Linked DNA regions of Homo sapiens. The protein of the gene in region 1 interacts with the protein of each later gene in a biochemical or structural test. Each region holds a gene or a part of one and is shown on either strand. Other genes may lie near its edges. The genes, in order: KAT7, CDK11B, HAP1, ORC2, ING4, H4C6 and CDC6.

Evidence for each region.
Region 2: the proteins of KAT7 (region 1) and CDK11B form a complex in vitro, tested with the Homo sapiens proteins (one study listed by BioGRID and IntAct).
Region 3: the proteins of KAT7 (region 1) and HAP1 form a complex in vitro, tested with the Homo sapiens proteins (one study listed by BioGRID).
Region 4: of the proteins of KAT7 (region 1) and ORC2, one has a biochemical effect on the other in vitro, tested with the Homo sapiens proteins (one study listed by BioGRID).
Region 5: the proteins of KAT7 (region 1) and ING4 form a complex in vitro, tested with the Homo sapiens proteins (one study listed by BioGRID).
Region 6: of the proteins of KAT7 (region 1) and H4C6, one has a biochemical effect on the other in vitro, tested with the Homo sapiens proteins (one study listed by BioGRID).
Region 7: of the proteins of KAT7 (region 1) and CDC6, one has a biochemical effect on the other in vitro, tested with the Homo sapiens proteins (one study listed by BioGRID).

Annotation. Positions count from the first base shown.
Region 1 is NC_000017.11:49,816,181-49,819,680, forward strand, and holds part of KAT7 (histone acetyltransferase KAT7), read left to right. Parts: intron 1-1,639; coding exon 1,640-1,831; intron 1,832-3,500. UniProt on the Homo sapiens protein: Catalytic subunit of histone acetyltransferase HBO1 complexes, which specifically mediate acetylation of histone H3 at 'Lys-14' (H3K14ac), thereby regulating various processes, such as gene transcription, protein ubiquitination, immune regulation, stem cell pluripotent and self-renewal maintenance and embryonic development.
Region 2 is NC_000001.11:1,645,504-1,649,363, forward strand, and holds part of CDK11B (cyclin-dependent kinase 11B), read right to left. Parts: intron 1-3,860. UniProt on the Homo sapiens protein: Plays multiple roles in cell cycle progression, cytokinesis and apoptosis. Involved in pre-mRNA splicing in a kinase activity-dependent manner. Isoform 7 may act as a negative regulator of normal cell cycle progression.
Region 3 is NC_000017.11:41,724,644-41,729,492, reverse strand, and holds part of HAP1 (huntingtin-associated protein 1), read left to right. Parts: intron 1-1,161; coding exon 1,162-1,292; intron 1,293-1,560; coding exon of another isoform or gene 1,561-1,656; coding exon 1,657-1,731; intron 1,732-2,060; coding exon of another isoform or gene 2,061-2,195; intron 2,196-2,348; coding exon 2,349-2,440; intron 2,441-3,595; coding exon 3,596-3,634; intron 3,635-4,338; coding exon 4,339-4,792; 3' UTR 4,793-4,849. UniProt on the Homo sapiens protein: Originally identified as neuronal protein that specifically associates with HTT/huntingtin and the binding is enhanced by an expanded polyglutamine repeat within HTT possibly affecting HAP1 interaction properties.
Region 4 is NC_000002.12:200,953,152-200,958,000, forward strand, and holds part of ORC2 (origin recognition complex subunit 2), read right to left. Parts: intron 4,394-4,849; coding exon 4,250-4,393; intron 1-4,249. UniProt on the Homo sapiens protein: Component of the origin recognition complex (ORC) that binds origins of replication. DNA-binding is ATP-dependent. The specific DNA sequences that define origins of replication have not been identified yet.
Region 5 is NC_000012.12:6,655,855-6,660,703, reverse strand, and holds part of ING4 (inhibitor of growth protein 4), read left to right. Parts: intron 1-3,904; exon of another isoform or gene 3,905-3,905; coding exon 3,906-3,977; intron 3,978-4,790; exon of another isoform or gene 4,791-4,849.
Region 6 is NC_000006.12:26,239,244-26,242,642, forward strand, and holds H4C6 (histone H4), read left to right. Parts: upstream 1-1,149; 5' UTR 1,150-1,182; coding exon 1,183-1,494; 3' UTR 1,495-1,550; downstream 1,551-3,399. UniProt on the Homo sapiens protein: Core component of nucleosome. Nucleosomes wrap and compact DNA into chromatin, limiting DNA accessibility to the cellular machineries which require DNA as a template.
Region 7 is NC_000017.11:40,289,591-40,294,439, forward strand, and holds part of CDC6 (cell division control protein 6 homolog), read left to right. Parts: coding exon 1-8; intron 9-1,467; coding exon 1,468-1,749; intron 1,750-1,878; coding exon 1,879-2,078; intron 2,079-3,865; coding exon 3,866-4,041; intron 4,042-4,359; coding exon 4,360-4,466; intron 4,467-4,773; coding exon 4,774-4,849. UniProt on the Homo sapiens protein: Involved in the initiation of DNA replication. Also participates in checkpoint controls that ensure DNA replication is completed before mitosis is initiated.

The DNA.
Region 1 (3,500 bases):
AAACCATAGGCGCCCCTTTGTCTCAGCTGGGCAATTTGCAATTCTGAGAACCTGTAGCCTAGGAGAGACTCATCTCTGTTGTTTTCTTAATCCCAACAGGAACTCCCCTTTTGCTAGGTTTCCTCTGCACTAAGAATGAAAATAACAGTGAAGAGGAATAATGGAAAAGGCTGTTGTCAGATGTTTTAGAATTAATCTTTGACACAGCCAAGTTTGATACATTGGTTTTCCATTCTGATATTTATTTAGAGCTAGTTTATACTGAGTTGCTGTCCTAGGCAGAATTTTTAACAACTTTGCTTGAAGAAAATTCTGGTGATTGAGTTTACCTCTGATATAACAGATTAAATGTGTTCAGGGAAGCTCAGTTTTAAAGTGAATCTCGTCTTCACCCCCTTCCCCCTTGTATTAAAAAAAAATTGTATCAAATACTAGACTTGTTGAAAACTTGGCAGAGGCAGGGTTTGCTGGCTACCCTTGGCTGGGATGGGCTGTTACTGCTGCTGGTTTTCTCTATCCTATTCTGGCATGGAGCATTTCCTGGGCTAGCCTTTTACAACTTTACACCTGGTTATGCTTACAAATTATACTTTTGTAGCCAACTCAGAGCCACTGAATGGAGATGGATATCCGAATTTTTTTTTTTTCTGAGACAGGGTTTTGCCCTGTTGCCCAAACTGGAGTGCAGTGGTGCCATCATGGCTCACTGCAGCCTCGACCTTCAGTGCTCAAGCGATTCTCCCACGTCAGCCTCCTGAGTAGCTGGGACTACAGGCATGCCACTACACCCATCCCAGAAATATTTTCTGCCTTCTAGAGTTTAGATTCTAGAATTATCATGCACATTTCAAAAATATTTTTTAAAGGGCCTGTTTTTTTTTCTAAGTGACCATTGTGGATATATTTCACGGAGATTCATATAGCTTTATAAAAGCTTCTGCAGATAAGTAAGGCAGATTCTAAATCAAGTTTTTTGTTTAGTTTTAGAATACTTTATAAGGGTGGGGAGTTTGTATCTGTGATGATTTTCTTTATAATTCAGTTTGGTCTAGGCTGATAAAAATGAAGTTTCCAAGGTATCATTCTGGTGAGGCCCAGAATGTGGGAGGTAGCAGAGAAACCTCTCTTTTGAGACCTGTGCTCTGGGCAGTATGGGTAGTAAGTTTTCTGTACACCTGTGTGATTTTTCATGTAGCTCTCTTTAGTGTAAATTCTCATGGATAGAAGCCAAATCTGTCTGATTTTTTTCATAGCCTAGCGTGGTGGCATGCACACACACTTTTAAAAACAAAGATAATATTTATTTTTTTAAAAAGGAGTTTCGCTCTGTCTCCCAGGCTGGAGTGCAGTAGTGCGATCTCGGTTCACCGCAGCCTCTGCCTCTTGGGCGATTCTTCTGCCTTAGCCTCCCAAGTAGCTGGGATTACAATTGTTTGCCACCACACCTTGCTAATTGTTGTATTTTTAGTAGAGATGGGGTTTTGCCATTTCGGCCAGGCTGGTCTCGAACTCCTGGCCTTAAGTGACCTGCCTGCCTCAGCCTCCCAAAGTGTTGGGATTACAGGAGCCACTGTGCCCTGTCTAAAAGCAAAGATAATAAATTCTGATCCTCCTTTGACTTTTGATTTCTTGGCAATAGGAGAAGTTAAGGCTGCAAGGCCAAATCACAGAGGGAAGCAACATGATTAAAACAATTGCTTTTGGCCGCTATGAGCTTGATACCTGGTATCATTCTCCATATCCTGAAGAATATGCACGGCTGGGACGTCTCTATATGTGTGAATTCTGTTTAAAATATATGAAGAGCCAAACGATACTCCGCCGGCACATGGTGAGTTGTCTTGGGTTCCTCTGCCTTGACCATGATGGCAATAAGCTGTAGGATCTCTAGATTTTGCCATAGCGATGGCATCTGTTCAGGCACCTTCTCAGTGGTCCTCAGCAGTGGGATGAAGGCATAGGAAATGACAGGCCACAGCTTAAGGCGGGGTATAGAGCCTGAGGTATGGCTTGTGCTGGGTGCCACCCAAAGCAGCTGAGGGCCCTTACCCACATCCTGTCATGTACATCTTCTTGTCTTTTGTTCTTGCTGCCTACTGCTCTTCATTTCCTCCTTGGAATATGAATTACCTCTGCCCACAGGTTTTGTGTGTCCCAAACTAGATGAAAATACAGACTTCATTAGGCACAGCAGAGACAGCATGGCTCACCTTCATATCCCTAGCAACTAGTGTGGACAACTGATGCCCAAGAAGTATATGTTGAATGGGTACTTATTAATATTTAATAGTGATCAGCCTGTGACAGATTATGAAAGTAGCAGAGTGGGTCCTTTGGTGCCTTCCCCTCTTTTTCCTAATAAAACAGGTATAAGGAGTTGAATCTGTTATTGTTGACAAATAGGTTTACTAGATTTTTTGCAGCTTCAAAAAAAAAGCCATTTTTCCCCCGCTCTGTTACAGAATAAGCTTTGTCTTAAGGGGAATTTCTGCCATGGAGCAAGGGTGCGGAACAGGGGAAGGAGTAGAGATTAGCCTTTCAGGCAGAGAAGACTTTTTCTTGTTTTTTTTTTTTTTGAGAGGGAGTCTTGCTCTGTTGACCAGGCTGGAGTGCAGTGGCGCGATCTTGGCTCACTGCAACCTCCGCCTCCCAGATTCAAACGATTCTCCTGCCTCAGCCTCCTGAGTACCTGGGACTACAGTCGCACACCACCACACCTGGCTGATTTTTGTATTTTTAGTAGAGACAGGGTTTCACCATATTGACCAGGATGGTCTTGATCTCCTGACCTCATGATCCACCCACCTCAGCTTCCCAAAGTGCTGGGATTACAGGCATGAGCCACTGTGCCCAGCCCTTGTTCTCATAATCACAATATAATTTGGCTCTAAGGCCTCTGGGGTGTCTCTTTTTCCTTCCCCTTCCTTTTTTATTTCCCAGGATTTCCATATGTTGAGCATCTATGACCCAGGTTTCCTGTGATTTCTGTCATTATACTCTTCTCCCCAGTTTGGTTGGTGATAACTGCTTTTTTATGTTCCCAGTTCAGGAGCATGTGGTCTGTAAGTTCAGGGCCCAGAACTGTTGCTTTGACTCAGGTTCTCCAGACCCTGGCACACTTGACTGCATAGGGCTAGAGTCATGGAGGGGAGGTGATTGGCGGCGATTGGTAGAAATATCAGTGCACAGGAAATAATGGGGTCAGAAGGTGGGGCACTGATACAGATGGCAGGCCGTGGAGATAAAGTAAAATGGTTTTACTGTGTGAAAGCGGGTATTTTTATTGATGTGAACTGCTTACCATTTATGCCTTTTTTCCTTTTCGTTTCTGGTTGTTGAGTGACACAAACCAATGAAATAGCCAAAAGGGCAAGAAATAGTAATAGAAGGAGAAAACAAAGAGTCTGAATAAATCTGAGAATCAAATAAACATTCTGAATATTTGAAAATCTTCCATATTATATGATATAAAAATCAGATTTCAGGAAATACCTAATTTA
Region 2 (3,860 bases), on another chromosome or scaffold:
AGTAGCTGGGATTACAGGCGTGCGCCCTGTACTCCCAGCTAATTTTTGTATTTTTAGTAGAGACGAGGGTTTCACCATGTTAGCCAGGATGGTCTCAATCTCCTGACCTCGTGATCCGCCTGCCTCCGCTTTTCAAAGTGCTGGGTTTACAGGCCCGAGCCACCGTGCCCAGCTGCCATTTCCAATTCTAATTAATAAATGATCCATTTCTTTCCATTCGATCGGTGTTTGCTTCATGGATTTTGGGCTCTGTGGTTAGATGCATTCACACGTATCATTGCTGTATCTTCCTGCTGTATTGGCCTGTTTCTGGCTGTGAAGTCCTTGCTCCTTCTTGTTTCTAGCTTTTTTTTGAGACAGGGTCTTGGTTTGTCACCCAGGCTGGAGTGCAGTGGCGCAATCTCGGCTCACTGCAACCTCCATCTCACGAGTTCAAGTGATTCTCATACCTGAGCCTCCCGAGTAGCTGGGATTACAGGTGTGCGCCACCACACCCAGGTGATTTTTGTAGAGACAGGGTTTCACCATGTTGGCCAGGCTGGTTTCTAATATTTCTTAACATCTGTTTTGTCTGGTATGAGTACAGCCATTCAAGCTCTCCTATGACAGCTGATGTTTGTACGCTGCGTCTTTTCCTGTTCTCTAGCAGACAGCATACAGTTAGATCTTGTTTTTCTATCTGATAATCTGCCCTGTCTGTTTGGGGCACAGAGACCTTTCACATGTCATATAATTACACGTACAGTTGGATTTACTTTCCTTGCTTTGTTGTGTCTTTTTTATTCTTCCCTTTTTGATTTTAAATTACATATGTTTAGCATACCATTTTAATTTATTTGTACTTTTTAAAACACTAAGAAAACAACTTTCTTAGTGGTTGCTCTAGGGATCACCGTATGCCTCATGATACTAGCTCAAGTCCAGTACAATATAAAACTGTTGTAACACAGCTTTATTCCCTGTCTTCTTTGTGCAGTCCATTTATGCCACATACCATGACAACAGTGTAATTATTTTATACAATCGTAGTTCCAGTAAAACCTAAGATGTGAGGAGAGATAGTTACAGGATATTGACGTCAACCTACACTTGCTATCTGCAGTGCCTGTCCTTCCTTCCTGAGGATTCAAGTTACCGTCTGGTGTCATTTCTATTCAACTTGAAGGTCTTCCTTTAGTATTTCCTTTAAGGCAGGTTTCGCCAACAATGAATCCCACCAGTCTCTGCTTCTCAGGGAATGTCGTTCGTTCCCTTTCACTTGTGTAGAACGGTTTTGATTCCTGGCTGATGGTTCTTCTCTCTGAGCAGCTTGAGTATGCCACTCCACTGCCTTCTGGCCTCCATTGTTTCTAAGAAGTCAGTGGCTGGCGGTATTGAAGCTCCCCTTTCATGGGATGGGTCATTCTTCTCTGAGGCCTTTCAACATTTTCTCTTTGGCCTTTGCCAGTTTGACTATGATGTGACTTTGCATTTATTCTAGTTCAAACTTCCTGTGCTCTTGAATGTGCATATTTTTTAATTAAAATTTGGAAAGTTTTTAACCATTATTGTAACAAATATCTTTCCTCTCTCCTGGAACCCCCATTCGACGTGCTTTGGTACAGCAGATGTTGTACCACGGGTTTCTGAGGCTCTGTGCATTTTTCTTGTTTTTTTCTCTCTGTTCTTCAGAATGGATAATTTCTACTGCTCCATCCACAAGTTGTTTCCAAGCCTTTACTAAATTCAACATCTGGACACTCAGACAGTTTTTACTGATGATGTTCTTCCTCAGTATGGGTCACACTGTCATACTTCTTTGTATTTTAGATAATACATTTGTAGCAATTCTGGATTCTAAGTTTTCCCTTTCGTTGTTACCACCGAGGCCTGTCTGGTTGTCCGTGAAATCCATCTCCCTCACAGCTCGTGGCCACCCCGTTCCTTCCCACATGCCTATTTTAATTTTCAACCTTGGCTTCCTAGGGGTCACCACCATGGCTGCACAGCTTAGCAATTAGCCAGCACTGGAAAAAGGCTGGGCTCAAATACCTCGAGCACAGTAAGGCTTCCTTGGCCCACGGCTGTGTGTGGACAGGGAGCACACTGAACGTTCACGCGTCATTCGCATCTGTGGCGGCTTCTATTTTCTGCCAGGTCCTTTCACGCAGCTGCATCCTCAGGGCTGGTCACAAGTGGGTGGCGGCTCGAGCTCTCTCCAGTCTCTGCTGCACGTCTTTGGCGAGATCACAGCTGCTCCCAACCACACTGTACTTCATTCTAGCAGACCTCTTGGCCTTTTCTTCCTCCCTCCACTGAGGATGCTGGTGGGCAAGGCCACTGCCCACTGCTCTAAACGGAGTAACCCCTTCCAAGGCAGCAAGGAAACTGCAGGTCCTGCAGCTGCCCTGTCCCAGTGGAACCTCCGTGCTTCCCAAGTGCAGAGTGGAAGCAGTAAAGGGAGCAGCTCTCAGGCCAGAAGGTCAGATTCTTACTGCTTTCACCCACAGCTCAGCAGTTTTCCAAGCATCAGTGCTTCTCAGATTATCCTTATCAGTTTCCTTTTTGTCAGAGACAAGGTCTCCCTACGTTGCCCAGGCTGGCGTCATGCGGTCCTCTGGCCTTAGCCTCCCACGTAGCATATGCTACCATACCCAGTTCTGGATTGGCTGATCTGAATCGGCCCTACCCAGAAGTCTGCCCCCAACAATTTTTGCTCATTCACTCTCCTGTCTTTACCTTCTGGGAAATCAATATGACAGCCCAAATTTCATCTACCAACCTCCACTTCTATCCCAAGCTGTACTCTCGTGGGACAAGACACACTCAATGTCTGGCACAGGGTGTGGCATACATGAATGTTTCACACACTAACAGGAACTAGGCCAACTGAAACCTTGCTCACCCCGCAGCGGTCTCGGACCTTGACCCCTGGGCCTCAGTGTCTCCCACACCCTTCGGCATCAACAAGAACCAGCGCCCTCTCATCATCTTTACATGCTGTGTACCCAGCCCTGGCTGCTGGCAAACATCGCTGCCCTTCCGCTTCAGACTCCTCTCTTCCTGGAGCAGCTTGCAAGCTTTCTGTGGACTCACTCTGAAGGCGGAGATGGGCCTGCTCCCACCTGGCCTACAGCCTTTTTCCTGGTTCACGGAACAGATCTGGGGCTACACCGATGTTCTTTCTTGGGAATCTGGCTCATAAAGGGGAACGAATATATAAACTAATGGCCAGGAGTCCTGGGAGTCCAGGGTCCCGAATTCCAGACTGTTTCAAGGTTTTTAGGATCTCCCTTCTCCTTTTTTTGAGACAGTCTCACTCTGTCAACCAGGCTGGAGTGCAATAGCATGGTCATAGCTTACTGCAGCCTTGACCTCCAGGCTCAAGGGATCCAACCACCTCAGCCTCCTAAAGTGCTAGGATTACAGGCATGAGCCACCGCGCCCGGCCGGACATGCAGATTTCTGATCCCTTCATTGTCTTCCCTCAATCAAATCACACCCGTTCTTACTTCCAGATGCAGTGAAAACTCACTCCCTCAGGACAGTTCTCTTGGTCAGCCTCGTCCAGCGTTCACTGTGCTGTTTCCATGTCTACCACTTCTGCACCAAATGTGACTTCTTCTTTTTTTTTTGAGACGGAGTCTCGCTCTGTCGCCCAGGCTGGAGTGCAGTGGCGGGATCTCAGCTCAATGCAAGCTCCACCTTCCGGGTTCACGCCATTCTCCTGCCTCAGCCTCCCAAGTAGCTGGGACTACAGGTGCCCGCCACCATGCCCAGCTAATTTTTTGTATTTTTTTAGTAGAGACGGGGTTTCACCATGTCAGCCAGGATGGTCTCCATCTCCTCACCTCATGATCCGCCCACCTCGGCCTCCCAAA
Region 3 (4,849 bases), 8.1 Mb from region 1:
CTGCAACCTCCACCTCCCGAGTTTAAGCGATTCTCCTGCCTCAGCCTCCCGAGTAGCTGGGATTACAGGCATGCGCCACCATGCACAGCTAATTTTGGTATTTTTAGTAGAGATGGGGTTTCACCATGTTGGGCAAGCTGGTGTTGAAATCCTGACCTCAAGCGATCCATCCCCCTCAGCCTCCCAAAGCGCTGAGATTACAGGCATGAGCCACTGTGCCTGTCCCAAGACCTCATTTCTTAAAAAACAAGTAGCCGGGTGCAGTGGCTCACCCCTGTAATCCCAGCACTTTGGGAGGCAGAGGCAGGTGGATCTCTTGAGGTCAGGAGTTTGAGACCAGCCTGGCCAACATGGTGAAACCCCGTCTCTACTAAAAATACAAAAATTAACTGGGCGTGGTGGCGCATGCCTGTAATCCCAAGTACTCGGGAGGCTGAGGCAGGAAAATCGCTTGGACTCGGGCGGCAGTTACAGTGAGCCAAGATTGCACTATTGCACTCCTGCCTGGACGACAGAGATTCGGTCTCAAATAAATAAATAAATAAACCAACAAACCCAAGTCTGACCACGTCATTACTGTGCCTAAAACTCCCAAATAGCTTTCCATTGGCCAAAGGATAAACCCCACCCCCTTGCCCACTACTGTGGTCTGGCCTGTGTGCACTGTTCTGGGCCCTCCCCGTCCCAGTGTCTTATGATGGCCTCTGGGCCTTTCCAGTCAGCTTGGACCCATGTTTTTCCTTCTTTGCCTGGGTGAGCTTCACTTGCCCTGTGGTCTTAGCTTAGTGGTTCCTTTTTCCAGGAATCCTTCCTTACCTTGCAGGTCGGGTTGGGTGCTGTAGCTGTGATGCCCCTGCCCTGTACACCCTTGACATTTGCCCATCATGGCCTGTATGATGTGTGACTGTGGTCTGTCTCCCCACCAACTTTACCTCAGTGTGGCGGCTGGGTCTTACTGACCACTCACCCTGGTGCCCTGCTCAGTATCAGTCAATGAACATTTCTTGAATGGAAGACCTGAGTGAGGAATGCAAAGCCCTGCAGGACCCACTGGCACAGCGCAGCAGCCGAGGGTGGGGGAGACAGAGGCATCTGGGAGGGCCAGAGCTGGTCCCTGAAGGCCAGGGGAGCCAGGGCTGACCTGTCCTCTGCCCTCCCCAGCGGAGGCCAGCCAACAGATGGCTGAGCTGTCGGAGGTGCTGGTGCTCAGGCTGGAAAACTATGAACGGCAGCAGCAGGAGGTCGCTCGGCTGCAGGCCCAGGTGCTGAAGCTGCAGCAGCGCTGCCGGATGGTGAGTCGGGTGTGTGTGGAACCCTCTTGTCGTGGCCCCATGGGACCCTAGCTTCCTTCTTCCTGCCTCCACTCGGCTCCACCAGGCCTGAGGTCCCTTTCTGTGTCAGAGTCAGAGACCTCAGAGAGCCCCTTATCTTGACCCCTTGTTATCTTGAGGAGACCAAGGCCCAGAGAGGGTCCTGGAGTCTTCTAGGAACCAGGCTGCGTGACTCCCCTGCCTTCTTTGCCCTCCTTCCGTGTGACTTGTCATTTCATGGGCTGCCAAGGACTCACTGATGTGCCTGGGAAGACTTGCTGGAAGCAGGGGGTGCCCTGAGTGGGTAGGCCTCAGATGGGGGTTCACTGGTTTTGGGTCCTTCCAGTATGGGGCTGAGACTGAAAAGTTGCAGAAGCAGCTGGCTTCGGAGAAGGAAATCCAGATGCAGCTCCAGGAAGAGGTGAGTCTCGCTGCCGGCTTCTGCCCCCACCCTGGAGAGCCGCTGGCCCAGAGTGGGGACCCCAGGCCCTTGGCAGCTACCTGACTCTGGAGAGGACTAGCAGGAACTGAGTCTTGTCCGTTTCCACCCCCTCCATGCCTGGCACAGCCCAGCAGGTGACAGTTCCATCAAGGTCTGAGTGGTGTGGAGTGCAGGGACCTGCCCTGGGTCCCCCACATGACACTTGGAGTCCAGAACCTGGGCCTCTGGCCTCAGCCTGAGAGCAGATAGGCAGGAGTGCTGGACTGGGTGTGCCTGGGTCCCAGCAGAGCGTGTGGGTGGGTTCCCAGCTGCAGGACCTGCGGGAGAAGTACATGGATTGTGGGGGCATGCTGATTGAGATGCAGGAGGAGGTGAAGACCCTCCGCCAGCAACCCCCAGTGTCCACTGGGTCTGCCACCCATTACCCATACAGCGTGCCTCTGGTGAGGACCCTCCCCTGGCTGCCCACTTTCCTACGTCTGTGCCTGTGTCTCAGCCTTGGTGGCTGATTGAGATCCCAGTTCCCTTCTGTGCCTGAGCCTATGGGTGGGGGTTCTGTGGGGGTCCTCTGGTAACGTCTGTTCTCTCCACCATAGGAGACTCTTCCTGGTTTCCAGGAGACGCTGGCTGAGGAGCTCAGAACGTCTCTAAGGAGGATGATCTCAGACCCTGTGTATTTTATGGAGAGGTGCGTGGCTGGGGCCCTCCCTTGCCCCATAGGCCATGGCCTTTCCTGTAGTGGGGAGGGGGTTTGCCCTCACACTCTGACCTTCCACGCTTCCCTATACCCGCCTCGTTCACTGCATCAGCCCCTCCACTCATTGCTTCTCTATGAATATGGACCCATCACTTCCCCCTGAGGTATTTTTTTTTTTTTTGAGATGGAGTCTTGCTCTGTCACCCAAGCTGGAGTGCAATGGTATGATCTTGGCTCACTGCAACCTCTGCCTCCCAGGTTCAAGCAATTCTCCTGCTTCAGCCTTCCGAGTAGCTGGGATTACAGGCATGTGCCATCACGCCCGGCTACTTTTTGTATTTTTAGTAGAGACACAGTTTCACCCTGTTGGCCAGGCTGGTCTCAAGCTCCTGACCTCAGGTGATCTGCCCGCCTCAGCCTCCCAAAGTGCTGGGATTACAGGCGTGAGCCATCATGCCCAGCCTGAGGTTTTTTTTTTTTTTTGAGACGAGTCTCACTCTGTCACCTGGACTGGAGTGCAGTGGCGAGATCTTGGCTCACTGCAACCTCCATCTCCTGGGTTCAAGCGAGTCTCCTGCCTCAGCCTTCCAAGTAGTTGGGACTACAGGCACGAGCCTGGCTAATTTTTTTTTTGTTTTTTGAGATGGAGTCTTGTTTTGTTGTCCAGGTTGGCGTGATCTCGGCTTACTGCAACCTCCGCCTCCTGGGTTCAAGCGATTCTCCTACCTCAGCCTCCTGAGTAGCTGGGACTACAGGTGGCCATCACCACGCCCGGCTAATTTTTGTATTTTTAGTAGAGATGGGCCAGTAGAGATGTTGGCCAGGCTAGTCTTGAACTCCTGACCTTGTGATCCACCCGCCTGGGCCTCTCAAAGTGTTGGGATTATAGGCGTGAGCCACTGCACCTGGCCAAGCCCAGCTAATTTTTGTAGTTTTAGTAGAGACGGGGTTTTACCATGTTGGCTAGGCTGGTCTTGAACTCCTGACCTCAGGTGACCTGCCCACCTCGGCCTCCCAAAGTGCTGGGATTACAGGCGTGAGCCACTGCTCATGGCCACTACCTAAGGTTCTTCAGCTTGACCAAGCCCCAGGGACTGCAGTTTCGGCTTCCATTGTCTCATAATGAAGGTCCTTTTCTCTTTGAAGGAATTATGAGATGCCCAGAGGGGACACATCCAGCCTAAGGTAAGCCTGCCAGGGGCTCCCCTACAACCTGCCCTCAGCTTTCAGCAGCCAGACAGCCCACCTGCCTCTGGTTCTGCCACCCTGCAACTCCGGAGAAGGCCCTGCTATCTCGGCTGGCTGAACTGAGAACTGTTCTGGGAAGGAGCTGCCCCACTTTTCCTTCAAATCTTGCCCCCTGGGTGGCCGTCTGATTCCAGGCAGCTCTGAGTGGGGACTGAAGCTTTCTTTTCAACTGACTATGGGCTGAGAGGTGACAGGCACTGGCTTAGGAGCTGGGAACACCTGGGACTAAGGCCCAGCGTGGTCCCTTTCCTGACTGTGTGTCCTTGGGCAAGTCATTTGACCTGTCTGAGCCTGTCTAGAATGGATTTGTTCCTATGGCAAGTAGCTGTGGGGTGGGCTATGAAGGTTAAATCATGCAGGAGGGAGGCAGAAGTGGGTGTTAACCCTGTTGGTGTATTCCGTGCAGGGTCAGGGACATAAAAGAAGATGGGGCCTATGCAGTGTTGGTGACCATTCTTCCTCCCTCCCACCAGGGGGATGGGCTGGGTATTTGAAGCCTTGGAGCTGGTACCTAGCTCCCCTCTCCCCTGGCTGGGACAGAACCAGGAGGAACCATCAGGATCTGTGTGGAGACGGGTGGGGGTGGGCCTGGGGGGTTGGACTTTCCAGCCCCTCAAAAGATGTCGCTATCTCCCGCCCAGGTATGATTTTCGCTACAGTGAGGATCGAGAGCAGGTGCGGGGGTTTGAGGCTGAGGAAGGGTTGATGCTGGCAGCGGATATCATGCGGGGGGAAGATTTCACGCCTGCGGAGGAGTTCGTGCCCCAGGAGGAGCTGGGGGCTGCCAAGAAGGTGCCGGCTGAGGAAGGGGTGATGGAAGAGGCAGAGCTGGTGTCAGAGGAGACCGAGGGCTGGGAGGAGGTGGAACTGGAGCTGGATGAGGCAACGCGGATGAACGTGGTGACATCAGCCCTGGAGGCCAGCGGCTTGGGCCCTTCACACCTGGACATGAATTATGTCCTCCAGCAGCTGGCCAACTGGCAAGATGCCCATTACAGGCGGCAGCTGAGGTGGAAGATGCTCCAGAAAGGTGAGTGCCCCCACGGGGCCCTCCCTGCCGCCAGCCGGACAAGCTGCAGATCGTCGTGCCGATGAAAAGAGAGGGTGGATAAGCTCCCCGAGTGCTCACCTGCCCCAGCCTGGCTCTACCTG
Region 4 (4,849 bases), on another chromosome or scaffold:
GCTGATCTCCAACAAACTTACATTCAAAGACTCAAGTCCTACATCAAAATCAATCACTACTGCATTAGTTACACTAATAAAAAGTTACAAACAATCCAAAAGTATAATATAGAAAACCACACATTATTTATATATTAGAATGCAATACTACTAGCTATTACAGTTCTTTTTGTCCGAAGACTGACCTCTGAGAATTTAACGATATGTTAAATTTAAAAGAAAATAAAACCACCGCCTCATATCCATTAAAAGGGCTACTGTTTTTTTTTTTTTTTAAAAAAGGAAATAGGTGTTGGTAAGAACGTGGAGAAATTGGAACCCTTGTACACTGTAGGTTGATATGTAAAATGGTGCAGCCACTGTGCAAAAAGTATGGTGGTTCCTTAAAAAATTAAAAATAGAATTAGCACATGATCCAGCATTTCCACTTATGGGTATAAACCCCAAAGAATTGAATGCAGGGTCACAAAGAGGTATTTGTACACCCATGTTCATAGCAGCATCATTCGCAATACCCAAAAGGTTGAAGCAACCCAAGTGTCCATCTACAGATGAATAAATTTCAGTTTTGTACAATGAGAAAAGTTTGGGAGATTGGTTACAAATGGTGTGAATGTACCTAATGCCACTGAACCCATACACTTTAAAAATGGTTCAGATGCTAAGCTTTTTTGTGTGTGTATGAGATAAATTCTTGCTCTGTCACCCATGCTAGTGTGCAATGGTGTGATTGTGGCTCACTGCAGCCTCAACCTCCTGGGCTCCAGTGATCCTCCCACTTCAGCCTTCTGAGCAGCTAGGACTACAGGTGCATGCCACCACGCCCAGCTAATTTTTGTATGTTTTTTGTAGAGATGGGATTTGGGATTTCTTTCTTTCTTTTTCTTTTTTTTTTTTTGAGATGGATTTTCACTCTTGTTGCCCAGGCTGAAGTGCAATGGTGTGACCTTGGCTCATTGCAACCTCCATCTCCCGGGTTCAAGCGATTTTCCTGCCTCAGCCTCCCGAGTAGCTGAGATTACAGGCACCCACCACCACGCCCAGCTAATTTTTTGTATTTTTAGTAGAGACACGGTTTCGCCATGTTGGCCAGGCTGGTCTTGAATTCCCGTCCTCAGGCGATCCACCCGCCTTGGCCTCCCAAAGTGCTGAGATTACAGGCATGAGCCACTGCACCTGGCCAAAACTAAGTCTTTAGGAAAATGTAACTATGATTAAATAGTGTAATCTGTATAAACTTTAGGAGGATATTTGGCAATACATGTCAAAACTCTTATTGTAGAAGAATGTCTAATGACAGAGTAATGTATATATGATACATTATTAATTGCAAAAAGTCTATTTATAAACGTAATGGTGCAAGCTTATGTGTGCCCATGCATGTATGAACAGACAGAAGATACACACTGAAATGTTAACGGTTCCACGTTCTCTAAAGCAGGCATTCTTGACAGGTACAATACATCTCCCAATTGGGTAAAACTGGATCTTGGCACAGGAGGGAGTGTGGAAAAAAGACTTTGACATTATTAATATAATAGTCTGTGGCCCTCCAAAGCGTCACAGTACATAAACAGATATACAGCATATATGTAGTACTGAAATTTTTAGGGTGGGAAAAAGTGATTAGGAGAAAATGTCTAAAAAGGCTAATTAGGGGTCAATAATTTTAAAAAGGTTGAAAAACATAGGGCATGATGCCAAAAAATAAGGCAAAGTTCCCCAGTGTGAGGAATGAATGAATGAATGAATGAATAAATAAATAAATAAATAAATAAATAAATAAATGGTATGGGTTTCATATGTGCTGAGTACTGATTCTCTCAGGCCTTTGAGGATGCCAATCAAGGCCAGTAGCAGGGGTAGGGTTAGGGCCCTGGGGTATTTGTCCTTGGTCTGCAGCATCCTCTTCTATTTATTCCATTGTGCCTCCAAATATCATTTGCTGTGAGTGCTGTTATGTGAGAAAGGTTGGAAGCACTGAATTTCTACAACAAACATACTACTTTTTTAAGAGACAATTTTTATGATAAAAGTTTCCTTTGTGGAATACTGTTATCAATCTCTTCTTAGGCCTGGCATAATAGGGAGTCAAGAACACCAAGTTTTATTTAGAATATGCTCAAAAAATGTCAACTGTCTAGCTGTGGACACATAGGAGACCCTACCCAGCCCACTAAATCTATTGAGGAGCAGTGGTCATTTTTTGTATAACTCTATACATGGAGTATATGACTCTACCCCCATAGTTAATGAACTATGTAATTATGTTCATTAATATAATAAGTAATAGGCACAGATAACTCAACTGTGATTCATCTGTGGATATTCCAATTATATGCTATTTCTATGTCCAGATTTTAAAAATGAATTGAGCTAAATTGACTCTTGAGAATCTAGAATGGGAGAACTGAAAAACCAAATCACTTAACACTGGGAACTTGATGGACATTTATAAGTATGTGAGAATAAAACACATGTACATGAAGAAAATATGTGGCATAGAGAAATCAGAACAGATGCACAGAGATGACACAGGGAGACCTGGAGACTCATGAAAGCACAGTTCCTCAGTTTTTAACACTGTCCCAGTTCCAACTCTCCTAGTACCCAACAATATTGATTTCTTTCCTTTGTCATTATTTTTTTAAGCTAGGTTGTGGGGATCTGTGTTCCTTGTACCCAGGAAAAACCTAACTAAAATATAATTCGAACCTAAAAAAATGTTTTATGTTAAGAATAATCTTGCAGGAATCTGGCTTAGATGTAAAAATTAAAACCACACACATAATACCAGCATCCCTGGGTTAGAACACTACTTCTTGAAATGCTCCTCCTAGTTCTGTAAAGATCAAGGTAAGAATAAAGTAACTTGCTTTAGAAAGGTATTTTAAATAAGTTAAAAATATAAATATCTTTTTTTTGTTCTGTTTTGACCTAGGGTCTCGCTTTGTCACCCAGGCTGAGTATAGTGATGCAATCACAGCTCACTGTAGCCTCAACCTCCTGGGCTCAAGCAATCCTCTGCGTTAGCCTCCCAAGTAACTAGGACTACAGGCACACGCCACCATGCTCAGCTAGTTTTATTTTTTTTTTGAGACAGGGTCTCACTCTGTTGCCCAGGCTGGAGTGTAGTGGTATGATCACGGCTCACTGCTGCCTCAACCTCCCAGGCTCAAGTGATCCTCCCACCTCAGCCTCACTCATAGCTGGGACCACAGGTGTGTGCCACCATGCCAGGCTAGTCTCAAACTCCTGGACTCAAGCGATCAATCTGCTTTGGTCTCCCAATATGCTGAGATTACAGGCATGAGCCATCACACACCCAGCTTCCAGCTAATTAAAAACTTTTTTTTTTTGTAGAAACGGGATCTTACTATGTTGCCTAGGATGGTTACAAACTCCTGGGCTCAAGCAGTCCTCCTGCCTCAGTCTCCCAATGTACTGGGATCACAGGCGTGAGCCACCATGTCTGGCCATAAATAAATACCTTAAAAATAGTACTAGCTACTCAGGTGGCTAAGTTGGGAGGATCTCCTGAACCCAGAAGTTGGAGGCTACAATGAGCTATGATTGTGCCATGGCATCCCAATCTGGGTGACTGAGCAAGACCCTGTCTCTAAAATAAATAAATAAATAAATAAATAATCTTGAAAATAACTTTAGGAGTACTATGCAGCCATAAAAGGAATGAGATCATGTCCTTTGCAGGGACATGTATGAAGCTAGAAGTCATCATCCTCAGCAAACTAACACAGGAACAGAAAACCACACACTGCATATTCTCACTCATAGGTGGGAGTTGAAAAATGAGAACACATGGACACAGGGAGGGGAACAACATATGCCACAGCCTGCGGGTGGGTGGAGGGAGGGAGAGCATAAGGACAGACAGCTAATGCATGTGGGGCTTAAAACCTAGATGATGGGTTGAAAGGTGCAGCAAACCACCATGGCACATGTATACCTATGTAACAAGCCTGCACATTGTACACATGTATCCTGGAAAAATTTTAAAAATAAAATAACTTTAGAGTGGTTGGTCTATAGATTCCTTCTTACTGAAAACTATGTGCAGGACTGGTTGTTAAAAAAAAGAACTATGGAGAAATTGAAGCAAATGCTTTTTAGATGAGAAACATGATCATATAGAACACCACTGTTTAACCTACCAGACTACTTTTGTGTATCCTATAAAGCAATTTCTGCTACTAGCAGAAACGAGTGTATATTTCACCCCCTCAAATACCTTGAACATCTCTTCCCATAATTTCCACATAGTTCTGATCTTTTAAGACCTCCTGGTCATCTTCCTCCAAATCATATTCTGGCTTCTTTATTATTTTTTTGGGGTTGACCAAAAGCTGCGCTCGCTCCTTCTTCAATTTAGCTCCTATAAGAACATCCAAAGAAATAGAGCATGACAGGTATAAATTCTTTCTAAACATTACATTTAAATAAGAAATTATAATATTTATATTGTCATTACTTAAAAGCTGGGAAAAAAGCTTTCTCTTTGATTAAAACTGACCACTCTGACCACTCTTCCACAGTTTATATAGTTAAAAAAAAAAACACACACAATCTTGAAAGTATATATTTTTAGGGTTCAAAATAACCACATATTTTAAATTACAATGGGTAGTTATTAGTGACTACCACTCCTGGGCATTTTGTTTTATATTAGGCTTTACTGAACATTTTCAATTAAAGTTTGAAAGAATTAAACTAAAAATTAAAGCAGTTTTTATTTAGTTTTACTAACCAGATCAATCCTTTGCGCTATATTTTCAAAAGAAAATGTTAAAAGTTTTAAAAGTGAAATAATCCATAAACATTATAATAAGCA
Region 5 (4,849 bases), on another chromosome or scaffold:
TGGTAGCAGACCTGAAGTTGTAGGTTTAAACAGTAGAGGCATTTTATTTTTTTTTATTTATTTTATTTTAGTTTTTCTGTTTGTTTGTTTGTTTTTGAGACAGAGTCTCACTCTGTCACCCAGGCTGGAGCGCAATGGTGCGATCTTGGCCCACTGCAACCTCTGCCTCCCGGGTTCAAGTGATTCTCCTGCCTCAGCCTCTTGAGTAGCTAGGATTACAGTGCCCGCCACCATACCCAGCTAATTTTTGTATTTTTAGTAGAGATGAGGTTTCACTGTGTTGGCCAGGCTGGTCTCAAACTCCCAACCTCAGGTGATCCACCCACCTTGGCCTCCCAGAGTGCTGGGATTACAGGCATGAGCCACCGTACCAGGCCTTTTATTTTTTATATATATATTTAATTTTTATAGAGACAGGATCTGGCCATATTGCCCAGGCTGGTCTCAGACTCCTGAGATCAAGCGATCTACCTGCCTTGGCCTCCCAGAATGCTGGGATTACAGGCGTGAGCCACTGTGCCCAGCAAGTAGAGGCATTTTTAAAGTTTTAGGTGGAGTCTTGGCAAGAGATTTCTCTTGTACTGGGGTGACAAATATTCATGCATTTATTCAAGTATTTACTGAGTACCTGCTCTTTGCAAGTCATAATTCTAAACACTATGGAAACAGGAGAGAATATGATAGCCATGTTCGGCCTGGGGAGACAGATACCAAATAACTAATTACACATTATTTTTTTTAATTTTTTTGTTTTTTGAAACAGTCTTGCTCTTTTGCCCGGGCTGCAACCTCTACCTCCCTGGTTCAAGCAATTGTCCTGCCTCAGTCTCTTGAGTAACTGGAACTACAGCCACAGGCCACCATGCCCATCTATTTTTTTTTTTTTTTTTTGAGACAGAGTCTCGCTCTGTCGCCCAGGCTGGAGTGCAGTGGAGCGATCTCGGCTCACTGAAAGCTCCACCTCCTGGATGCACGCCACTCTCCTGCCTCAGCCTCCCGAGTAGCTGGGACTACAGGCGCCCGCCACCACGGCCAGCTAATTTTTTTGTATTTTTAGTAGAGACGGGGTTTCACCATGTTAGCCAGGATGGTCTCAATCTCCTGACCTCGTAATCTGCTCTCCTCGGCCACCCAAAGTGCCGGGATTACAGGTGTGAGCCACCGCGCCTGGCCTAATTTTTGTTTTGTTTTGTTTTTGAGATGGAGTCGCACTCTGTCACCCAGGCTGAAGTGCAGTGGTGCGATCTCAGCTCACTGCAACCTCCACCTCCCGGATTTAAGCAATTCTTGTGCCTCAGCCTCCCAAGTATCTGGGATTACAGGTTTCACCATGTTGGCCAGGCTGGTCTTGAACTCCTGGCTTCAAGTGAGCCACCCGCCTCGGCCTCCCAAAGTGCTAGAATTACAGGCATGAGCCACCGTGCCTGGCCCTAATTTTTGTATTTTTAGTAGAGATGGGGTTTTGCCAGGCTGCCAAGGCTGGTCTTGAACTCCTGGCCTTGAGTGATCCACCTGCCTTCCAGAGTGCTGGATTACAGGCATGGGCCACCGCACCCAGCCAACTAATTACACATTTATTTAATTACAGTTGGATAAGTGCTTTAAAAAGGTGGCTAGAATACCTTGACATAGATCGAGGGCAGTTAACAGAGTCTGGGAAAGTTGAGTTTGAGCTGAACTTTGGAAGAACGAACAGGAATTTAATAGGCCAAGAGGGATGGGGTGGATGGGATGAGGAAAAGCGAGCGGTGCATTCCAACTAGAGAGAACAGCATGTGGAAAGCCAAATGGCAGGAGGAGCACAGGCCAGTTTGAGGCAGTGCGAGGAGGCCAGTATGGGCAAAGCAGAGCACAAAGGGAGACTGACATGAGTTCAGGCTGGTGTGAGGTAAGCAAGGGCCAGAAAGCGCAGAACATCTTCAGAGCAGTAGGAAGTGACCAGAAGGTTATAAGCGGGAGAGTGACTTGATTAGGTTTGCATTTTTTATTTTTGTGTTTGTTTTTGTTTTTGTTTTTTTGAGTCAGTGTCTTGCTCTGTCATCCAGGCTGGAGTGCATTGGCGTGATCTCGGCTCACTGAAATGTCCACCTCCCAGGTTCAAGGGATTTTTGTGCCCCAGCCTCCCAAGTAGCTGGGATTACAGGCATGTGCACCAAGCCTGGCTAAGTTTTTGTATTTTTGGTAGAGACAGAGTTTCACCATGTTGCCCAGGCTGGTCTTGAACTCCTCAGCTCAGCTGATGCGCCCACCTGGGCCTCCCAAAGTGCTGGGATTACAGGCATGAGCCACCGTGCCTGGCCAGGTTTGCATTTTTTAAAAAGGACATTCTGGCTACTATATGGAAGTAGATTGGAAGTGTTATGTGTATAATAGAGGATACCAGGAGACTATTTGTAATTTGAGGACAAAGAGCTTGGAGGCAGAGATGGAAAATAAAAGAAAGGGGCCCGTCTTAGTGGCTCATGCCAGTAATCCCAGCACTTTGGGAGATCAAGGCGGGCGGATCACCTGAGGCCAGGAGTTCAAGACCAGTCTGGCCAAAATGGTGAAACCCTGTGTCTACTAAAAATACAAAAATTAGTCGGGTGTGGTGGCGCGCGCCTGTGGTCCCAGCTACTCCAGAGGCTGAGGCAGGAGAATCACTTGAACCCAGGAGGTGGAGGCTGCAGTGAGCCAAGATCGTGCCACTGCACTCCAGCCTGGGCAACAGAGCCAGACTCCGTCTCAAAAAACAAAAAAGGAAAAGAAAGGGAAGAGCTTTTTTTTTTTTTTTTGGAGACAGAGTCTCGCTCTGTCACCAGGCTGGAGTGCAGTAGTGCAGTCTTGGCTCACTGCAACCTCTGCCTCCCAGGTTCAAGTGATTCTCCTGCCTCAGCCTCCTGAATAGCTGGGATTACAGGTACGTGCCACCACACCTGGCTAATTTTTATATTTTTAGTAGAAACAGGCTTTCACCATGTTGGCCAGGCTGGTCTCGAACTCCTGACCTCGTGATCCACCCGCCTCAACCTCCCAAAGTGCTGGGATTACAGGCTTGAGCCACCACACCTGACGGGAAGAGCTTATTTATAAAGGAAGGTCACTGAAGGCGAAAAGGGTGGGATAGCCATGCAGAAATGGAAAGGTTTTGTAGAGAAAGAGTTAAGCATGGCCTGTCATGAGAGAACTGATCCATCCTGTCACAGATAAATCCAGAGGTTCAGAGGAAGGAAAACTGAGCTGCACTTTATTTTTTGTTTGTTTGTTTGTTTGTTTGAGATGGAGTCTCACTGTGTCGCCCAGGCTGGAGTGCAGTGGTGCGATCTCGGCTCACTGCAAACTCCGCCTCCCAGGTTCATGCCATTCTCCTGCCTCAGCCTCCTGAGTAGCTGGGAGTACAGGCGCCCGCCATCGCACCTGGCTAATTTTTTGTATTTTTAGTAGAGACGGGGTTTCACCATGTTAGCCAGGATGGTCTCAATCTCCTGACCTCGTGATCTGCTCTCCTCGGCCTCCCAAAGTGCTGGGATTACAGGTGTGAGCCACCATGCCTGGCCATTTGTTTGTTTTTGAGACAGGGACTTGCTCTATTGCCCAGGCTGGAGTGCAGTGGCTCAATCACGGCTCACTGCAACCTCTGCCTCCTGGATTCAAGTGATTCTCATGCCTCAGCCTCCCAAGTAGCTGGGATTAGAGATGCCCACCGTCACACTAGGCTAATTTTCATATTTTTAATAGAGATGGAGGTCTCGCCATGTTGGCCAGGCTGGTCTTGAACTCCTGGCCTTGAGTGATCCACCCCCTTGGCCTCCCAAAGTGCTGGGATTGCAGGCGTGAGCCACCATGTCCGGCCTGAACTGCACTTTAAAAGGAGCTGTAAGGCCTATGCATAGTCAGTCCTGTGATTGTTTCTCTCTCTTCCCTAGGTATTGAAAACCTTCCCTTTGAATTACAGAGAAACTTTCAGCTCATGAGGGACCTAGACCAAAGAACAGAGGGTATGTATAGAGTAAAAAGTTTTTGTATCTAATGAGTGTGTGTAATCATTTATTTTTCTACTTGATGTTACCGTATCATCTGGTATGATCTGGAGAACTGTGGCTTCTCTCGCTCCTTTTTTACGCTCTTGGAATTCTTAAAACAGGATAATGATCCTCATTTCTGTGTCAGCTTTTTCATAACAAATAGAGTATTGTGAAAACGCCTCAAGAATTCAAAGATGCTGTGTTCTTTATGTCTTCCTGGAGAATAATTAGCCAGGCTGGCTCACACCTGTAATCCCAGCACTTTGGGAGGCCTAGGCGGGCAGGTAACTTGAGGCCAGGAGTTTGAGATCAGCCTGGCCACATGGTGAAACCCCATCTCTACTAAAAATACAAAAACTAGCCAGGTGTGGTGGCACGCACCAGTAATCCCAGCTACTTGGGAGGCTGAGACGTGAGAATCGTTTGAACCTGGGAGGTGGAGGTTGTAGTGAGCCCAAATCATGCCACATGTCACTGCACTCCAGCCTAGGCAACAGAGCAAGACTCTGTCTCAAAAAAAAAAAAAAAGAAGAATTAAAGAAAGTCAACTCGAGTCATTTCTGCTCTCCACGTTTGATATATTTATAGGATGACTAGAATGTTTCTACTTCTCTCATTGTTAATGTTACTGTCACAAATTCCCAGTGTGACTTTAGACTGCAACATATGTTGGTAGATGGGAGGTTTGCTATATGAGAAGTCCTTAAAAAGAGAAAGAAAAAAGAAAGAGGAAAGAAAAAAAAGCAGTAATTGACAATGGGATCTCTATACCGTTCACACTTACAGAAGCATTAGATACCATCTCCAGCCTGGAACATTGAGCAAATTTGGCTGCATTGGGGCAT
Region 6 (3,399 bases), on another chromosome or scaffold:
TATACATTGAAAAACTAAGAATGAAACTTCAATTAATATTGGTTTCCCTTACTAGAGGTCTTTCTTTATTAGGAATGCCAAAAACGATGTGAATGTATATGTCTCTGCCAAACGCTAAGTCTCATGATTGGCCAAATTTAAGAAGTATTGCTACATTTTAAGAATTAATAAAAATGGCCGGGCGTGGTGGCTCACGCCAGTAATCCCAGCACTTTGTGAGGCCAAGGTGGGTGGATCACCTGAAGTCAGGAGTTCGAGACCACCCTGGCCAACATGGCGAAACCCCGTCTTTACTAAGAAAATACAAAAATTACCCAGGTGTGGCGACGCGTGCCTGAAATCACAGCTACTCGTGAGGCTGAGGCATGAGAATCGCTTGAACCCAGAAGGCGGAGGTTGCAGTGAGCCGAGATAGCGCCACTGCACTCCAGCCTGGGCAACAGAGTGAGACCCCGTATCAAAAAAAAAAAATTAGTAAAAATACATTTTCAAAGAATCTTCACATTTAAAAATTAAAGCTAGGCGCCTGTAATCCCAGAACTTTGGGAGGCCGAGGCGGGTGGATCACCTGAGGTCAGGAGTTCGAGACCAGCCTAGTCAACATGGCGAAACCCCATCTCTACTAAAAATACAAAAATTAGCCGGGCGTGGTGACGCGCGCCTGTAGTTGCAGCTACTGCAGGGGCTGAGGCAGAAGAATCGCTCGAACCCGAGAGGCGGAGGTTGCAGTGAGCCGAGATCACGCCACTGCACTCCAGTCTGGGGCAGAGCAAAACTGTTTCAAAAGAAATAATAATTTTATTCTCTTGTCTATCCATTCGGTAGACAAGTGTAGCGTTACTGCCTCCTTTTTGCAAATAATAAGGATTTTAGGAGACAGACATTATCAGTTCGAGAGCCCACAGGCACTGGACTAGAAGACACAGAAACCTACACTCAAGACCCAAACAAGGAAACAGGAAGGAGTCAAATCAACTTGCATTTCCCCTACCCTCACCGCCCCCTTTCCTTCCCAAGGCAATAGTGTAGGGGACGCCCAGTAAGTTACGGAAAAGGCGGAGACAGAGGTTTCGTTCCCGCCCCTCCAATTCAGTCTCCAAAAAGGTCCGCATAATTGATATATAAGGGGCTTCAGTGTGTAGCAAAGTTGCAAAAGTTAAGAGTTGTTGTTTGTCTTCGATCATGTCTGGTAGAGGCAAAGGTGGTAAAGGTTTAGGAAAGGGAGGCGCCAAGCGCCATCGCAAAGTGCTGCGTGACAACATACAGGGCATCACGAAGCCCGCCATCCGTCGCTTGGCCCGACGCGGCGGCGTGAAACGCATTTCGGGCCTCATTTATGAGGAGACCCGCGGTGTTCTTAAGGTGTTCCTGGAGAATGTGATACGGGACGCCGTAACCTACACGGAGCACGCCAAGCGTAAGACAGTCACTGCAATGGATGTTGTCTACGCGCTCAAGCGCCAGGGACGCACTCTGTACGGCTTTGGTGGCTGAGCCTCACCCCGGCTTTTTATTTAACAGCTCACCCATAAAAGGCCCTTTTCAGGGCCACCTCCTTCGTCACACGAAGGGCTGTAACTGATGACGACTTGGGTTTCGTTTTGTAAATTTGGGATTCTAACTGAGTTAAACCGAGCCGTTTTTAGCGATCTTCCTAAGATGGCGGATGTGCTAAGGAGAAAGGGAAGGCGAAACATTAGAAACTTGTTCAGGTATTTCGATCGCAAACATTCACAGGAAAAGATGGTGGAAATGGTTTGGGAATACCAGCAGCCTTTTATGACGTATGTGATGTGTTTTATTCCCACGTTTCTGAAATTTACTCCTATGTTAGGTGGCTGGGACTTAACTACACTAGCATTACATGTTTAGTTTTTGAGATGGAGTTGCTCTTGTCCAGGCTGTAGTGCAATGACGCAATCTCGGCTCACCGCAACCACCCCCTCCCGGGTTTAAGCGGTTCTCCTGACTCAACCTCCCGAGTAACTGGGGTTACAGGCATGCGCCACCACGCTTGGCTAATTTTTTATTTTTAGTACAGAAGGGGCTTTTCTGTGTTGGTCTGGCTGGTCTCGAACTCCCGACCTCAGGTGATCCGCCCTTCTTGGCCTCCCAAAGTGCAGGGATTGCAGGCGTGAGCCACCGTGCCCGGCCTTAGTGTTATTTATTAGGCATAGAACGTGAGTAATCTTAGGGCGGCTGTGGACAGATCAATTACTGGTAAACTTAATCCACTACTTGTGTCCGGGCGCGGTGCCTCAGGCCTGAATCACAGCACCTTGGGAGACCACGGCGGGCGGATTACTAGAGCTCAGGAGTTCGAGACTAGCCTGGGCAACCAAAATGGTGAAACTCCGTCTCAACTAAAAAAGTTAAATAGGAAAGTTAGCCCGGCGTTGTGGCGGACGCCTGCTGTCGCAGCTAATCTGCAAGGGCTGAGGCAGGAGAATCGCTTGAGCACGGGAGGCGGAGATTTCAGTGAGCTGAGATGGTGCCACTCCACTCCTGCCTGGGCGACAGAGACCATGCCTCAAAAAAAAAAAAAAAAAAGTAAAGTTTGGCCGGGCTCGGTGGCTCATGTCTGCAATCCCATCTGTAATTCCAGCAGCTTGGGAGGCCGAGGTGGGTGGATCACTTGAGCTCAACGAGTTCGAGACCAGCCTGGCTAGCACTGCAAAACCTCGTCTCTACTAAAAATACAAAAATTAGACGTAGACGTGGTGACACGCGCCTGTAGTCCCAGCTACTCGGGAGGCTGAGGCAGGAGAATCACTTGAACCCGGGAGACTGAGGTTGCAGTGAGCCGAGGTCGCGCCACTGCACTCCAGGCCTGGGGCACAGAACAAGGCTCCGTCTCAAAAAGAAAAAAAAAAGCCCAAGTTTTTGTCTTACCCAGTGAATTCTTTGTTGGGGCACTTACTGTGATTTCAGGTCATTGATAATTTTACTGCTTTATTTCTCAAGTACTGGTAATTTATAACCCAAAGTGTTTCTCCTTGTGCTTTGTCAACCTACCCGGTTATCACCCGCGATCCTGACTCCTAACGTTTTCATTTTTTCACCATACCGAAGAAGTGGCTTCTCATCTGTTCTTTTTTTGTCAATGGTAATTCATTACATACACTGTTCCACAAATATTCTTCAACTTGGGGTTTCCTCTTCAAGAAGCCTTTACCTGATTCCTATGGGCAAAATCGGTGTCTGGGGTTTCCTTACAATTCACGAAGCACACTCTACACATGTCCCTAGCCCTACTTCAGAATTCCCTATACGACTTAGGAGCTACTGCACACTTAAATAGTTGGGAGTAATTCTTGCCCTCTTCCCAAGATATTTTCAGGTCTTGAACAATGTCTTTAATTTAGTATCCTCAGGATGTAGTATTTAGTTCATAAATGT
Region 7 (4,849 bases), 9.5 Mb from region 1:
ACGTCTGGGTAAACCATCCATTATATCACTTTTTCACTAGCAGCTCGTGACCTTTCTTTTCTTGGTAAGATGTGTGTCCTTTGAAGGAGCTTTCTAAGTTCAGTTAAGACTTCTTTTTTTTTTTTTTTTTTTTTTTGAGACAGAGTCTCGCTCCATCTCCCAGGCTGGAGTGCAATAGTGCGATCTTGGCTCACTGCAACCTCCGCCTCCTGGGTTCAAGCGATTCTCCTGCCTCAGCCTCCCAAGTAGCTGGGATTACAGGCGCCCACCACCAAGCCTGGCTAATTTTTTTTTTTTTTTTTTTTGGATTTTTAGTTGAGACAGGGTTTTGCCATATTGGCCAATCTGGTCTCTGAACTCCTGACCTCAGGTGATCCAACTGCCTCGGCCTCCCAAAGTGCTGGGATTATAGGCATGAGCTACCGCTCCTGGCCTAAGACTACTCTTCATTTTAGTTATTTTCAGAATGGTTGCTAAGTGCTTACCGAACTCCAGAGTTAGACACTTACTGAGGTCACTCTGAACTACTTAATAAGTCTGATCTTCAATTCCTTAATACTGAACTTAGTTCTGTCAATGTTTTAAGTTACCTTGTAGTTACATGGTATTATGAAACTTACCTCAATATTTGTGAAATTAAAAGAAACAAAAACGTGACATGATGAATATTTTCCATCCTTTAGGACAGTGATTGGTAATTCTTTCTTGTTTTGGAACATTTATTTTTAAATGGGGGGTAATTTGGTTGTTTCTGGAGACATTTTTGGTTGTTACAGCTGGGGGTTGCTACTGGCATAGTGGGTAGAGGCCAGGGATGCTGCTAGACATTACAATGCACAGGACAGCTCCTTGACAATGAAGAATTATTTGGTCCAAGATGTCAGTGGTGCCAAGGTTGAGAAAACCTGTTTCAAAATAGCCTTACAATTTCATCCTACTAAAACCCATTTGGTTTCTACTAAATGCAGTAGTCCCCACTTATCCATGGGGGATACATTCCAAGACCCCCAGTGGACGCCTGCAATCGAGGACAGTACCAAACCCTACATATACTGTGTTTTTGATTTGATAACCAAGTCAGCTACTAAGTGACTAGTGGGTGGATAGCATATACAGTGTGGATATGCTGGCTGAAGGGATGATTCATGTCTTGGGTAGGATGGTGCGGGATTTCATCATGGCACTCCACAGCATGCAATTTAAAACTTGTCAATTGTTTATTTCTGGAATTTTCCATTTAGTATTTTCAGACTGAGGGTAACTAGAACGGTGGATGAAGGGACTACTGTAGTAAGATCAGTGGTGCCATCTGGTGACCAATATTTGCTGCTAAGTGAGAAGGCATTTTATTTTGGTGGTTCTGACTAAGGTAGAAATTCACCTCTTTCTGGAAGAGGCAGAGGTCTTGCACATCCTTTTACTATCCAATGCTATGAGTGACTACATTTTTATTTTATTGTGTTTCAGGCGATGACAACCTATGCAACACTCCCCATTTACCTCCTTGTTCTCCACCAAAGCAAGGCAAGAAAGAGAATGGTCCCCCTCACTCACATACACTTAAGGGACGAAGATTGGTATTTGACAATCAGCTGACAATTAAGTCTCCTAGCAAAAGAGAACTAGCCAAAGTTCACCAAAACAAAATACTTTCTTCAGTTAGAAAAAGTCAAGAGATCACAACAAATTCTGAGCAGAGATGTCCACTGAAGAAAGAATCTGCATGTGTGAGACTATTCAAGCAAGAAGGTTTGTTCTTACATGGCAACTGTTAGTGCAGCCATTGTAACCAAGGCTGATGACTCCAAATGAAACCACCCACTGGGTCTTCTCATTCACCTTCTGTTGTGTCTAATTGACCTTTTATGTCTGGCACAGGCACTTGCTACCAGCAAGCAAAGCTGGTCCTGAACACAGCTGTCCCAGATCGGCTGCCTGCCAGGGAAAGGGAGATGGATGTCATCAGGAATTTCTTGAGGGAACACATCTGTGGGAAAAAAGCTGGAAGCCTTTACCTTTCTGGTGCTCCTGGAACTGGAAAAACTGCCTGCTTAAGCCGGATTCTGCAAGACCTCAAGGTACATTGAGAGTCTGAATTATGATACTCTTGGTAAAATGATACTTGGGTGTTTTTGTTTGTTTGTTTGTTTTGTTTTGTTTTGTTTTGTTTTTTGAGACGGAGTCTCGCTCTGTCGCCTAGGCTGTAGTGCAGTGGCGCGATCTCGGCTCACTGCAAGCTCTGCCTCCCAGGTTCACGCCATTCTCCTGCCTCAGCCTCCCGAGTAGCTGGGACTACAGGCGCCCGCCACCATGCCCAGCTAATGTTTTTTGTATTTTTAGTAGAGACGGGGTGTCACTGTGTTAGCCAGGATGGTCTCGATCTCCTCACCTCATGGTCCGCCCTTGTTGGCCTCCCAAAGTGTTGGGATTACAGGTGTGAGCCACCGCACCTGGCCTGTTTTGTTTTTGAAACAGGGTCTCTGTTGTCCAGGCTGGAGTGCAGTGTTGTGATCTCAGCTCACTGCAGCCTTGACCTCTTGGGCTCAGGTGATCCTCCCACCTCGGCCTCCTGGATAGCTGGGAATACTGGCACTCACCACTACACCCAGCTAATTTTTTGTAGAGACAGGGTTTCACCATGTTGCCCAGACTTGTCCTGAACTCCTGAGCTCAAGTAATCTGCCTGCTTCAGCCTCCCAAAGTGCTGGGATTACAGGTGTAAGCCACTGTGCCTGGCTGGCACTTAGTTAAGAAAGAGGGCTAGGCACGGTGGCTCACACCTGTAATCCCAGCACTTTGGGAGGCTGAGGTGGGTGGATCACCTAAGGTCAGGAGTTTGAGACCACCCTGGTCAACATGGTGAAACCCTGTCTCTACTAATAATACAAAAAAAAATTAGCCGGGCATGGTGGCAGGTGCCTATAATCCCAGCTACTCGGGAGGCTGAGGCAGGAGGATCACTTGAACTCGGGAAGCAGAGGTTGCAGTGAGCTGAGATCGCGCTACTGTACTCCAGCCTGGGTGACAGAGTGAGACTCTGTCTCAAAAGAAAAAGAAGGCTGGGCATGGTGGCTCACGCCTATAATCCCAGCACTTTGGGAGGCCGAGGCGGGCGGATCATGAGGTTAGGAGATTGAGACCATCCTGACTAACACAGTGAAACCCCGTCTCTACTAAAAATACAAAAAAAATTAGCCAGGCGTGGTGGCGAGTGCCTGTAGTTCCAGCTACTCGGGAGGCTGAGGCAGGAGAATGGCGTGAACCCACAGGTGGAGCTTGCAGTGAGCCGAGATCGCGCCACTGCACTCCAGCATGGGCGACAGAGCAAGACTCCGTCTCAAAAAAAAAAAGAGTTAAGAAAGAGTAGGCCTGGTGCGGTGGCTCACACCTGTAATTCCAACACTTTGGGAGGCTGAGGCAGGTGGATCACCTGAGGTCAGGAGTTCAAGACCAGCCTGGCCAATGTGGCGAAACCCCATCTCTACTAAAAATATAAAAATTAGCTGGGTGTGGTGGTGCATCCTTGTAATCCCAGCTACTTGGGAGGCTGAGGCAGGAGAATCACTTCAACCCGGGAGGCAGAGGTTGCAATGAGTTGAGATTGTGGCATTGCATTTCAGCCTGGGCAACAGAGTGAGACTCCGTCTCAAAGAAAAAAAAAAGAAAGAAAGAAAAGAAAGAGTAGAAGTTTAGAAGATTGAGGGTTTCTTCAAAATAAAACATTTGTAATTTCATTGTTTAAATCTTTCCAAATGAAAGTAGAGCTTCCTTACGTGCTGTTAGCTCTTCAAAGACATTTTAGGCTCTATCAGATCTTTATTTTCTGAGGCCAAAATAACTCCCATATTTGCATTTTTTTTTCCAGAAGGAACTGAAAGGCTTTAAAACTATCATGCTGAATTGCATGTCCTTGAGGACTGCCCAGGCTGTATTCCCAGCTATTGCTCAGGAGATTTGTCAGGAAGAGGTATCCAGGCCAGCTGGGAAGGACATGATGAGGAAATTGGAAAAACATATGACTGCAGAGAAGGGCCCCATGATGTAAGTATTGTTCTGCTTCATGTTGCTCTGTGAAAATCTGCAAGGTCTGTTGCCCATAAAAAGTACATTTTGTATATTTTCTCTCTGAAGGATAGTTACATAAACTTAAAGGGAAAGAAGAGAAGGAAGATACACCTAATTTTAAATTGGATTACTTATAGATGATGTGGGGTATCCTTGTAGCAGTAACTAGAGATAGGTTAGATTATGATCTTTAAACTGGTCTCAGCTTTAGGAAAGTGACCTGAAGTCAGCCTATATCAAACATTAGAGGGTTAAGAAGGTGAATATGGATACTAACTGTTTCTCTTTTTATAGTGTGTTGGTATTGGACGAGATGGATCAACTGGACAGCAAAGGCCAGGATGTATTGTACACGCTATTTGAATGGCCATGGCTAAGCAATTCTCACTTGGTGCTGATTGGTTAGTGCTCAATTGTTAATGTTACATGGTGGTTCTAAAGTATTTTTTAAGAATATATATTCAGCTTATTTATCAGCTATTTTATCTTAAACCAGCTTTCTGCCGTGTCAAAATAAGAAAGTTAAATGACTATGTACATCTTACCTAATAGATACATCTTATCTATTGGGATGGGGTAGGAGACAAGTGGCAAGCAACAATTAGAATGCTAGATTCTATAACTGGAGATTTATTTAGCTTTCAGAAGATTTAGTTTTCCCTTTAGGATAATTTGACCAATGATCAATGTTGTTGATCTCCTCCTTAGGTATTGCTAATACCCTGGATCTCACAGATAGAATTCTACCTAGGCTTCAAGCTAGAGAAAAATGTAAGCCACAGCT